Linked DNA regions of Homo sapiens. The protein of the gene in region 3 purifies or fractionates together with the protein of the main gene of each other region. This does not show direct contact. Each region holds a gene or a part of one and is shown on either strand. Other genes may lie near its edges. The genes, in order: VIPR2, TRDN and LEMD2.

Region 1 (3,652 bases), on a different chromosome or scaffold from region 3:
TTGGCCATGCTCCTGTCTAACCGCCCCTCCCCAAATCCATCCCTGTTTTCTAAGGTGGGAGAAAAGGGAAATGCAGGCCAGGCACCCTCCTAGGCTGGGCGGCAGGGTTCCTGCCATGGTACAGCTCTGTGCACAGCCGCCCTTCCACCCCCGGTCAGTCTGAGCCCGAGGCACCTTCTGGGCTGGGCCAACCACTTCCACACCAAGCCAGTGTTTAGTTTATACTTGAATTTTGGTTTTTACCTTTTTAAAAAAAAATAAATTCTTGATATAAATTTATGGAGTCTTTGCATTACTTTATAGATTCCCCGGATCATCATGAATTAGCTGGATGACTGGGGGTGACTGGCTGAACGTCTGCCCTGTCTTCATCTACTGAAGGGAGATCACAATGCCATCTTCATGTAATCACGTGGGCAGGAAACGCTTTCTGAATTTTTATTAAGTACAAGGCCTGGTATTAGGGCTGGCAGTAGACACACGGCCATGGACACATGGCCATGTCTGAGGGGGAGACAGAATTAAATGTAAAATAAAAAATACTGTGTGGTCAAGGAGAAAAAGACAGGCTGTATAACATGTAAGTGGGCGGATGCTTAAACAAGCAAGTTCACTGGAGAGGACTTTCTTCTGGCCTTGAAATAAAAGAAATGGTGCCTGACTTCCACAGTTGCCAAGGCCAGAAGTGCCCCTGCTGAGTCCTCCCAGGTCATCAGGTGCAGAATCACACCCTATCTAGATGGCGGGTGTTTTAAACCACCAAATTTTGGAGTGATTTGTTACTTCGCCAGGGAAATGCTGTCCAGGGCCTCTCTGAGCCTTGGGCAGGAGCAGAGCCCTGGGGCCCAGCCTCGAGGTGTGACAGTGGCGGAGGCGGAGTCGCCGCACCTCCAGGGCCTTCCTGGCAGCGTGGGGGTCTCCTGTCTCCACACGGCATCCCCATCAGGGACGGCCAGGCCGGGACACACACTCACTTGTACTGAGACTGGTCGTTGCCGCCGACATCTGGGGATGTTAACTTCTGCAGCAAAATTCGTATAATACTAATGAAAAGGACAAAATTGACCTGCACAAGAGATAATAAGTTTGTGAAACAGACACGTGGATCCCTAATTTGCCCTGAAGTCCACCTGATTTCGACCCTCCCCTCCGCTCCCTCAGTCCCTCCCTCCTTCCCTGGGAACTGCCTCTGGGGGTCCACATGCCTGAAGAGGTCCTTTTCCGGGAAGGCTGAGTGATGCGTGGAATGGGGTCAGTTCTATTTAATAAAGGATGGCAGGCTTGCTGTCTGCCCAAGTGTGTGATTCCACAGATAATCCACATGTCAACAGGGACTACTTACGATGATGGAAATTAAAATCGGTATTCGTATGACCCACCAGGGCACACTGTGGTCGTTTGTATCCCAGCAACTGTCAGAGAGAGATGGGAAATCAGGTTACCACCAACCACTTTCGCAAGACAGGTACAGAAGAATGAGCGCCTGCCCCTCCCAACTTGCCCACTCCCCTCACCGTGGAAGCACAATTTCTCTGCACTGACAGATCGTAAAGGAATCTGTCCCAGGGAGTGATTGTGTTTTGTTTCATGCTTTCAAAACAATAGTCGGCTTGTGGGGAGGAGGAATGGAGGTGCGGCCCCAGAAGCCAGGACAAGGGCAGGAGGGCTGCTGACGCCCTCCACTCTGAGCATGAACGTGTGTCAGCCCCATTCAGCTGAAATCAGGAGAAAAGAACCTTCCTCCTGAAAATTAGCTTCCCCTCACCTCCCGAATGGTTTGCATGTATATGGCAAAGGGTTTAAAACGTCCTTAGAGCCACCAGCTCTCCAGCTCATAGCATTTTGTTTTGATTTTCAGCGCATGGGGTGTCTCCAGCAGGAAGCTGTGACCCCTGGCTTGTAAAACGCCTCAGTGATTCTCCCCAGGGTCCACACCCTGCGCTGGAAGTCTGCAGCCCTCCCATAAAGCAGAATCTCCATTGCAGGCTTGGGTCCATGCTTTCCCTCGGGGGCCGAGGGCAGGAGCCTTCAGGCTGGTGCAGTCTCAGACTGGCTGAAGGGGACCAAGGGGAACCAGTCCTCAAAGCTGCTGAGTCCTCCCAGGTCATCAGGTGCAGAATCACACCGTAACTAGACGGTGGGTGTTTTAAACCACCAAATTTTGGAGTGATTTGTTACTTAGCAGTGGGTAACTGATGCACACTGAGGCCCTTTAAAAGGCAAGATATTTGTGCTGGAACCACGCGTGCTCATGTCTGGGCCGTGGTCTCGCTCAGGGAGAGCATAGTGGAAAAGCGCTCTGGGCCGCATGAGCCAAGACCAGTGCTTAGGAAGTGCCGGGGGGCCCTGCAGCCACCATCACCTGACCTTCCACTTTGCTCCGGGTAAACAACATGCAGGGCACTTGGCTTTCTTCTGTGGACATCGCTGTGCCCACCGCAGGGGCTGCCCCAGTCTCTGCCTGGCTTATCCCAATCTCAACTATGCTGCAAAACCTGGCTCACTTCCTGTCTCCTGCACGGGGCTTCCTCCAACACTCCAACCTCACAGGATTTCTCCCCATGAATCGCCCAGATGCTTCCTGCGTGGCTGTCGGTTGGCCGCAAACGCTCCCTGTCCTTCCAACCAGGTAACCTTCTGGCTTCCAAAGGACTTCATGTTGCCAGATGTTGCCGGGCCCGTTTTCGAGGTTGCAGTCTGGTCATGGACTCACCCGGTGTCTTCTAAGTAGAGCCTGGCCGCAGTCCATGCACCGATGCAGACGGTGGGGAGGCCTGCAGAGAGACGCCTGGTTACACAGGTGGAGCGGAGCGGTGTGCACGCACACAGGTGGGTGCCTTCACCAGCAAAACCCTCAAGGACACGCTTTCTCACGGGAATATTAAGTGCAATCTCTTGTTTAAAGTCTTTGTAAATATTTACAAGTTTATGCTCATGCCTTAGTAAGCAGTGAAGATAATTAAACACACGCTTGAGAGCTGAGAATCTGAGACTTGCCATTCCTCATGAGAAGGGTTATTACTGGAGGCCATGGAGTTGAACGTGCGGAGAAGGAGATGTGTTCACTGATTTTTGCGACCACCCACGGAGCTATCGGCTACGTTTGCCTCATCCTGTCCATGAGGATGTCCCAAATTTGCACCCCTTTCCAACCCTGGGCAAGGCAAGGCTTCCGCTACCTGGTGTGCCTCTCCTCTCTGATCCCCACCCTCAGTGAAAGGTGAAGTGGGTAGAGGCGGAGGAGGAAACCGTTTTGTTACTTGTTAACAGCCCAGTTTGAATGGGGGTACAAGGGGCCAGGAATGGGAGTATTTTAAACTAGGTTCCTGGTTACCAGAAATATTAATGTGTTGTTTGTAGGAGCCTCCAGTCATCCTGGAAGAGCTCTTCATGATATGACCCTGACATGCATTCTACGGGGGCGGCAAAGTGTTTTCTGAGCTGAAAATGTTTGCGTTGTTTGGTCCGATGGGATGGGATGGAGGGTTTGTGGGTGGGAAGGGGCACACTTACCCCATCCGATCAGGAGGTAGGCCAGGAAGCACCTTCTAGGGGGGAGCATGGCCACCAGGAGGGTGTGGAGGTAGAGCCCCTCCACCAGCAGCCAGAAGAAGTTGGCCATGATGCAGTACTGCAGGAAGACCAGGCTCAG
Region 2 (3,652 bases), about 90 Mb from region 3:
AGTTAAGCAGTTTGCAGTTCTTTATGGAATGAGAGAGAAAATTTGTTATTTTCTAACTCCCAACATGTGTAGTATGTTTCTTGAGGGATACTATTCTATTTAATACTTTGGCATCAGACATTCTGAATCTGATGCAGTAGCTAATGGATCACGCTAATTCCAAGATTGAATCAAATATGCTGATGTCATTTTTTTTGATTAGGCCATTTTGTTTTCCATTTGACAAAAGTCATGAATAAAATGCCTTCCTAAATAAAACTGGGTGATTTGAATACCCATGGCAATACTTTTTGTTTTTTTCATTCCTTAATAAATTTCGTCACTTAAATTATTTTAGGGAAAAATCAGGAAAAATATTTTGGCACAAAATTGAAGAATGTGTACTCAAAAGTAAATAGAAGTTGGGTGTTGCTTTAGTTTCATGATATTTTCTTTATTATAGCCACATCATTGTTTAGTTGTCACTCATTTTTTTCTACTATGAGGCAAAGTTATCTATTTCCAGAGTGAATGTGATTGAAGAGTGTCTAAAATAGTAGAAAATATTTTATTATTTTTATACTTAAAGTCAATGATTATAATGAGTTGGCTATATATGTGGTTCTACCTCTTAGAAAATAATCATTGCCCACTTATAAATTATAATGGCATTAAAAAGAAATCTGAATTTCACACATCTATAGTTCCATACTATAAAGTTAAGGTTAAATCAACTGTAACTTACAAGGAGTAGATAGCTGTCATTTAGAGTAAGCAAATATAACAATTTCATACAAATTAGTATAAACAAAAAAAAAAGTTGGCAAGTTTAACAGGTTTAGACAAGTTTATTTCTAAACACATATTTACATAATGCAGTCTCTATATCACTATATTATACATATGATCTGAGTATAGTGGAATATTTACTCTCTCCATCAAAATTGCTAATCCAGTATACATTTATCCTCTGTTTTCTCTGAAAGAAGCATTGTGCTAGACACTATGGTGATACAAAAATAATAATAGAATTCCTGCCCCTAAGCACTGTCTGTCTGGTAGGGAAGACAGATAGATCAAACTATCTATATTTCAAGATATATAATAAAGAATAAAATGTATAATTTAATAAAAATTCAGAAAAATGGAAGCTCATGGGAAGACATTATTAATTCAAATGGGAGAGCCATTTTTTTGCATGTGAATTGACCATGAAGAAATTTAATCCCAGCACTTTGGGAGGCCGAGGCGGGTGGATCGCCTGAGGTCAGGAGTTCAAGACCAGCCTGGCCAACATGGTGAAACCCCATCTCTACTAAAAATACAAAAATTAGCTGATGTTGGTGGTGCACACCTGAAATCCCAGCTACTCGGGAGGCTGATGCAGGAGAATTGCTTGAACCCGGGAGGCAGAGGTTGCAGTGAGCCAAGATTGCACCATTGCACTCCAGCCTGGCAACAGAGCCAAGAGTCTATCTAAACAAAAAAACAAAAAGACAAAAATAAATAAAAAAGAAATAAAGAAATTTAAATATGTGGAAAAATATAGAAAATATAGAGAATGCAGTCTGACAACAGTTGACACATGGAAAAATACATAAAATATTCAAAAGAAAGAAAGCAGTCCAGTAGAGGAATAAATTTTTGGAAAAGTGCTGTAACATGGGAGATAGGAGGAAGCCAGATATTGCACGGTTTTAATTTTGCTGTGCTAAAATTTATTCAGGTAGTTTTATTATTATGCTGATTTTTAGAGCTCCAGCAACTAGCTGTGAGCCCAGGTCAACATAGACTCTCTAGAAGTGTTTTTTAGGTGAATGAGTTGCATGAGATTGAGGTGCTGTTGACCACTCCAGTGAAACTTTCTTTCCAGACAGACACTAATAAACATTCCAGTGTGGAATTCTGGAATGATTTCAATTTAAAGTCATCCGCAGAAAGCTGCTGGTTTCAGTCACAGAAACATATGAGTTTACTGCAGGAAAGAGCAGAAACCAGCAAAGGAGGTTTAGAAATGATTTATAGGAAGAAGAAAATCCCCTGAGTGTAGTTACAGAAGCCACAAAGATGTTGAAAGTTTATGGACATGTGAAACCCCATCTCTACTAACAATACAAAATTAACTGGGCTTGGTGATAGGCGCGTGTAATCCCAGCTACTTGGGAGGCTGAGGCAGGAGAATTCCTTGAAACTGAGAGGCAGAGGTTGCAGTGAGCCGAGATCGTGCCACTGCACTACAGCCTGGATGACAAAGCAAGACTTCATCTCAAAAAAAAAAAAAAGTTTATAGAGTAATTGAGTAATATTTGTATGAGAATTTTATGATTAAACAATATTGAATAATGTGTGTATCATAATTCCCCTTCTTAAAAATTCTCAATACACTTCAGCTTTGAGAAAGTCCAAGCTAAATGACCAGGTTAGCTTATTGTTGCCAAATGAATTTGGCCATGAGAATATTCTCCAATACCTAATACAGTATCAACATCTTCCTGTAAATATCTGAAGTATCTGAGAAACAGTGTTTTGGGAAGTGCTGGCGTAGTCAATTAAGTGCGATACCACAGATGATTTTTGGTTTGCAAGCTAACCAGCATCTGGCATTATCATTTTCATTCTCTCAATGGGACCTTCTGATATTATCTTGGCTTAGCCTGAAATCATCATTTAGGGTACCAAAGTCAAGAAACTTGATTACATTTTTTCATTAAATTCTTTTTTTTTTTTTTTTTTTTTTTTTTGAGACAGAGTTTTGCTCTTGTTGCCCAAGTTGTGGTGCAATGGCGCAATCTCGGCTCACTGCAACCTCCGCTTCCCTGGTTCAAATGATTCTCCTGCCTCAGCCTCCTGAGTAGCTGGGATTACAGGCATGCACCACCACGCCCAGCTAATTTTTGCATTTTTAGTAGAGATGGGGTTTCACCCTGTTAGCCAGGATGGTCTTGATCTGCTGACCTCATGACCCGCCCGCCTTGGTCTCCCAAAGTGCTGGGATTACAGGCATGAGCCGCCATGCCCGGCCTTCATCAAATTCTTTAACATGAGTGACAATAAAGGCTACACAGTGCATTAGCAAATGACATAGAGGATTCCAACATTGCAGTAGAGTTGCTGTGGTGTATAGTGGTTATGTGTAGTCACATACAAAAAGGAATGTCCAATATTCAGCATCTATTATGAACAATTTTCCACAAATTATGTGCTACATTATTACTGCTTTTTAAAAGATGCTTGAATGATCCACAGACTAGTTATTTGCATCACAGTTCCCTCTTCCAAAATACGGATAATATCAAATTAAGAATATATGTGTGTAATATATATATGTTCTAATTTATATATCTATTCATATATATTTTTATTTATAGCCCTTTGAATTTCCCATGATATGTTTAAGGGCTTTAAAAACTAGTAGAATTATCGCTGACTTAAGATAAACAGGAGCCAATATCTGAATTTCTTCACTTTCAGTTTTTCTAAGGCCAAATCATTAGACTATAGGTCTTTCAGTTATCTTCTAATGGATTTCATTGTTTTATTTCTGTTAGTCAACACCAATGCGATAATTTTACACTTGCATTACTAATTGTTGTCTTTAAAAAAGACTTTGTTGGCATTTCAGTTTCTTGAATGACCCTTAAGATCTTTCAGTTATCAAGCAAAATGATCATGT
Region 3 (3,652 bases):
CATTTTACCTATAAGGGAACTGAGGCACAGGGAAGTAGAGGAATGTGCTCAAGAGTCCCATGGCTAGTGGCATTTCCGTGCTCCCGCCACCAGGCTCTACTGTCAACATCATCCCTATCTGCAACCCAAGAGGAATCAGAAAAATAGAGCCGTTAGCAGTCCACTTTAAGTCAGGCACAGTGGCTCACACCTGTAATCCCAGCATTTTGGGAGGCCAAAGTGGGAGGATTGCTTGAGCCCATGAGTTCAAGACCAGCCTGGACAACATAGCAAAACCCCATCTCTACAAAAAATAGATATTAGTGGGCATGGTGACACATGCCTGTAGTCCCAGCTACTCAGGAGGCTGAGGCAGGAGGATCACTCGAGCCCAGGAGGTCGAGGCAACAGTGAGCTATAACTATGCCACTGCACATCAGCCTGGACAACAGAGCAAGACCCTATCTCTTAAAAAAATAAAAAAAAGGTCCATCTTAAACATGAAGGTGCTTGTTGCCTGTCATGCTCACCTCACCCCTGGAAAGGTGGCAGGCAGGAAGTTTAGAGTGAGCAGACTCACAGCAGCATGGGCTGTGCTTGCTCTGAGGAGCGCTTGCTGTTGGTTTCAGCGTGAGGCCCTCTACCTCCCAGGGAGGGTGACTTGGGGTACTCAAACTCCCACCCAATTCCTGGCCCTGGCAGGAGTATCGTGACAATGAGCATCTCAGTCAACCTGTGCCACAGTTTCCTTATCCTAAAATGCAGGTGATCCCGCTGCCTTGCACAGGGCTGTGACGAAGAGACTATCATTCATTCATTCATTCATTCATTCAGTTCCTCCACAAATGTTTATTGAGCACCTACTACATGCCAGACACCCTACTGGGTCACAGGGAGACAGCAGGAAGTGGAAGAAACAAAAATCCCTGTCCAGCTGGAGCATTTGTTCTCAGGAAGGAGACAGATGACAAGATGCATAAGGAAAAGATGTGATATTAGGTAGTGACAAGCCCTAAGGGAAGGGGGGTTGGTATCAGGGTGGTGGCCTCAAAGTTCATTAAGTCACTGCCTAGTAGCCAGGCACGGTGGCTCATGCCTGTAATCTCAGTACTTTGGGAGGCCAAGGTGGGTGGGCCACCTCAGGTCAGGAGTTCGAGACCAGCCTGGGCAACATAGTGAAACCCCATCTTTACTAAAAATACAAAAATTAGCCGGGCATGGTGGCATGCACCTGTAATCCCAGCTACTCAGGAGGCTGAGGCATGAGAATCACTTGAACCCAAGAGGTGGAGGTTGCAGTAAGCCGAGATCATGCCATTGCACACCAGCCCGGGTGACAGAGCGAGACCCTGTCTCAAAAAAAAAAAAAAAAATGGGAGACCAAGGCGGGCAGATCACAAGGTCAGGAGTTTGAGACCAGCCTGGCCAATGTGGTGAAACCCCGTCTCTACTAAAAATACAAAAATTAGCCGGGCATGGTGGCAGTCACCTGTAGTCCCAGCTACTCGGGAGGCTGAGTCAGGAGAATCACTTGAACCCGGGAGGCGGAAGTTGCAGTGAGCTGAGATCACACCACTGCACTCCAGCCTGGGTGACACAGTGAGACTCCATCTCAAAAAAAAAAAAAAAAAAAAAGTCAGTGCCTAGCACGTGGGCATCATCCAAGGGTAGCCATTATGCCTTGGGCTTAAATGATATTCCACACACATATTTGCTTAAATAAGAGCATGAGACGGCACTGCAGCTTGCCTGCAGCCGGAGCTACCACCCAAGCCTTCGTGCATTAGCATAGATACCCAGAGCTGCTGCCACTCAGGTAGCCGGCCCTCAGGGTCAGAGCCATGTGAACCCCAGACGCCCATGCTCTGTTTGCTCTCTTGACTTACCTCCCAAGCCACCCAGTCAGTCCAGGCCAAGCTCCCCACGTCAGGAGACATTGGCTAGCCAGTCAGGTCTGCCCTGTAGATGAGGGCCTGCTTGGGAAAGACTGAGGGAGATGAGAAGAACTGGCCTGGGAAGGAGGGGCTGGAGTGAGACACTGCCCACTCAACACTGGCCGCTTCCTGCTCAGGGACCCAGCACCTTGGAGCTCAGTCCCCAGGGAATGTGTGGCCTCGGCCAGACCAGCCAAGTTGGGGCTGCTGAATAGGCCCATGGGGTTTGGTTGGTGACAGGTCCTGACCCCTGGGGAAGCCCTAGCCCCCCCCCCGCCTCCTGACTCACTGGCCACCTCCGTTTGTCCTCCCCTTCTGCTCCCATGCGTACACACTCACAGTCACTGTCTTTCCACGTGTGGTGTCATGGGGAGGTGGGCTGCAGTGATGAGAAAAGGCTGGGGGCTGTGCAATACCATGCTTCACAAAGGGAGAAGATCAAAGTGACCCTCCCCCATGGCTTTGGAACCTTCTTGTCCAGTCTGGAAGGGGGGAAGAAGAGATGAGGGGAAGGCTGTCCAGGGGGGTGCAAGGCCCTAGAGACCCAGCAGAGAAGGGACTCTGGCCACTGAAGGGGCCCTCCGTTGTGGCTCTGGTTCCCTAGAGCAGCTCCAGCTTCTTGGCCTCCCCCGTCTGATGCTTAGCTCATCCCATCCCCTGGAGTGCTGTGGAGCTTAGATGAAACAGCCCAGTGCTCACTCTTCAATGAGCCCACCCAGAGCAGCATCAAGATGCAGTTGGCGGGGTACTGGAACTGGCTTGGCAAGGGCTGCGCAGGCAACAGGTCCCAGCAAGAGTCAGCTAGCCTAGCACAGCCCTGCACACCTGGAGACCTGGGGGTGCTCCAGACACCTCGGCCCTTTAGCTCCCTTTAATTGAATGTGTTTGGATCAGTGAAGGTTGAGGAATCATTTCTCTATGGCCCAAGACGTTTTTCTCCTCTGCAGTTGTCATGTTAGTACCTGCCAGCTTTTCCTCTCTTACATAAATTCCATGCCAGAGCCTGGAAATGTGTGCCCTTTGTAGGAGGGGCATCCACAGGCTGGCTCACCTCGGCAGTGCCAGGCAGAGCCCCGTCCCTCTCATTGCAGGAGGCGCATGAAGCGTGTCTGGGACCGAGCTGTGGAGTTCCTGGCCTCCAACGAATCCCGGATCCAGACGGAGTCCCACCGCGTTGCAGGAGAGGACATGCTGGTGTGGAGATGGACTAAGCCCTCTTCCTTCTCTGACTCAGAGCGATAAGCCCCGGGCGGGGACTTGTTCCCGGTCAGCCTGTCCCAGGACAGCCCACTCCAGAGGCACAGGAGGGTCACCAGGCCTGCGGTGCTGAATTCACACTTGCCTTGACTTTCAGTCTCGTCCTGACACGATTCCAAAGGTCTGCCATACTCTTCAGAGGAGTTCGGCTCGCAGGAAAATGTGGGCTTCCTTTAAAGGGAGGGGGAGAAGCCAGGGTGATAGCCCAGACTCTGCCCTGTTGTGCTGGCAGAAACGGGGAGAAGGGTTGAGTTTTCATGAATAGAAAACAAGAGCAGCAGCTGTCAGGCCCAGCTGACAAGCGTGGGGCTGGTGGGCTGGGGCATGGCCACGCCAGGGAGTCTGTCACCTGGGAGGTGGGGCAGGGATGGTGTTTCGGGTGGCGGGATGGGGAGCAGCTTGGTCCATGTGCCTTCAGGGGGTTGTTACTTGAGAGCTCCAGGGTGAAGGGAGAAAGCCTGTGCTCTGGCTGGCTGGGCCTC

The links.
Region 1: the proteins of LEMD2 (region 3) and VIPR2 purify together in Homo sapiens (co-immunoprecipitation; one large-scale study listed by IntAct). This does not show direct contact.
Region 2: the proteins of LEMD2 (region 3) and TRDN purify together in Homo sapiens (co-immunoprecipitation; one large-scale study listed by IntAct). This does not show direct contact.

The regions. Positions count from the first base shown.
Region 1 is NC_000007.14:159,033,239-159,036,890, forward strand, and holds part of VIPR2 (vasoactive intestinal polypeptide receptor 2 isoform 1 precursor), read right to left. Parts: coding exon 3,514-3,652; intron 2,775-3,513; coding exon 2,714-2,774; intron 1,413-2,713; coding exon 1,343-1,412; intron 1,067-1,342; coding exon 975-1,066; intron 1-974. UniProt on the Homo sapiens protein: G protein-coupled receptor activated by the neuropeptides vasoactive intestinal peptide (VIP) and pituitary adenylate cyclase-activating polypeptide (ADCYAP1/PACAP).
Region 2 is NC_000006.12:123,504,313-123,507,964, reverse strand, and holds part of TRDN (triadin), read left to right. Parts: intron 1-3,652. UniProt on the Homo sapiens protein: Contributes to the regulation of lumenal Ca2+ release via the sarcoplasmic reticulum calcium release channels RYR1 and RYR2, a key step in triggering skeletal and heart muscle contraction.
Region 3 is NC_000006.12:33,772,131-33,775,782, reverse strand, and holds part of LEMD2 (LEM domain-containing protein 2), read left to right. Parts: intron 1-3,004; coding exon 3,005-3,155; 3' UTR 3,156-3,652. UniProt on the Homo sapiens protein: Nuclear lamina-associated inner nuclear membrane protein that is involved in nuclear structure organization, maintenance of nuclear envelope (NE) integrity and NE reformation after mitosis.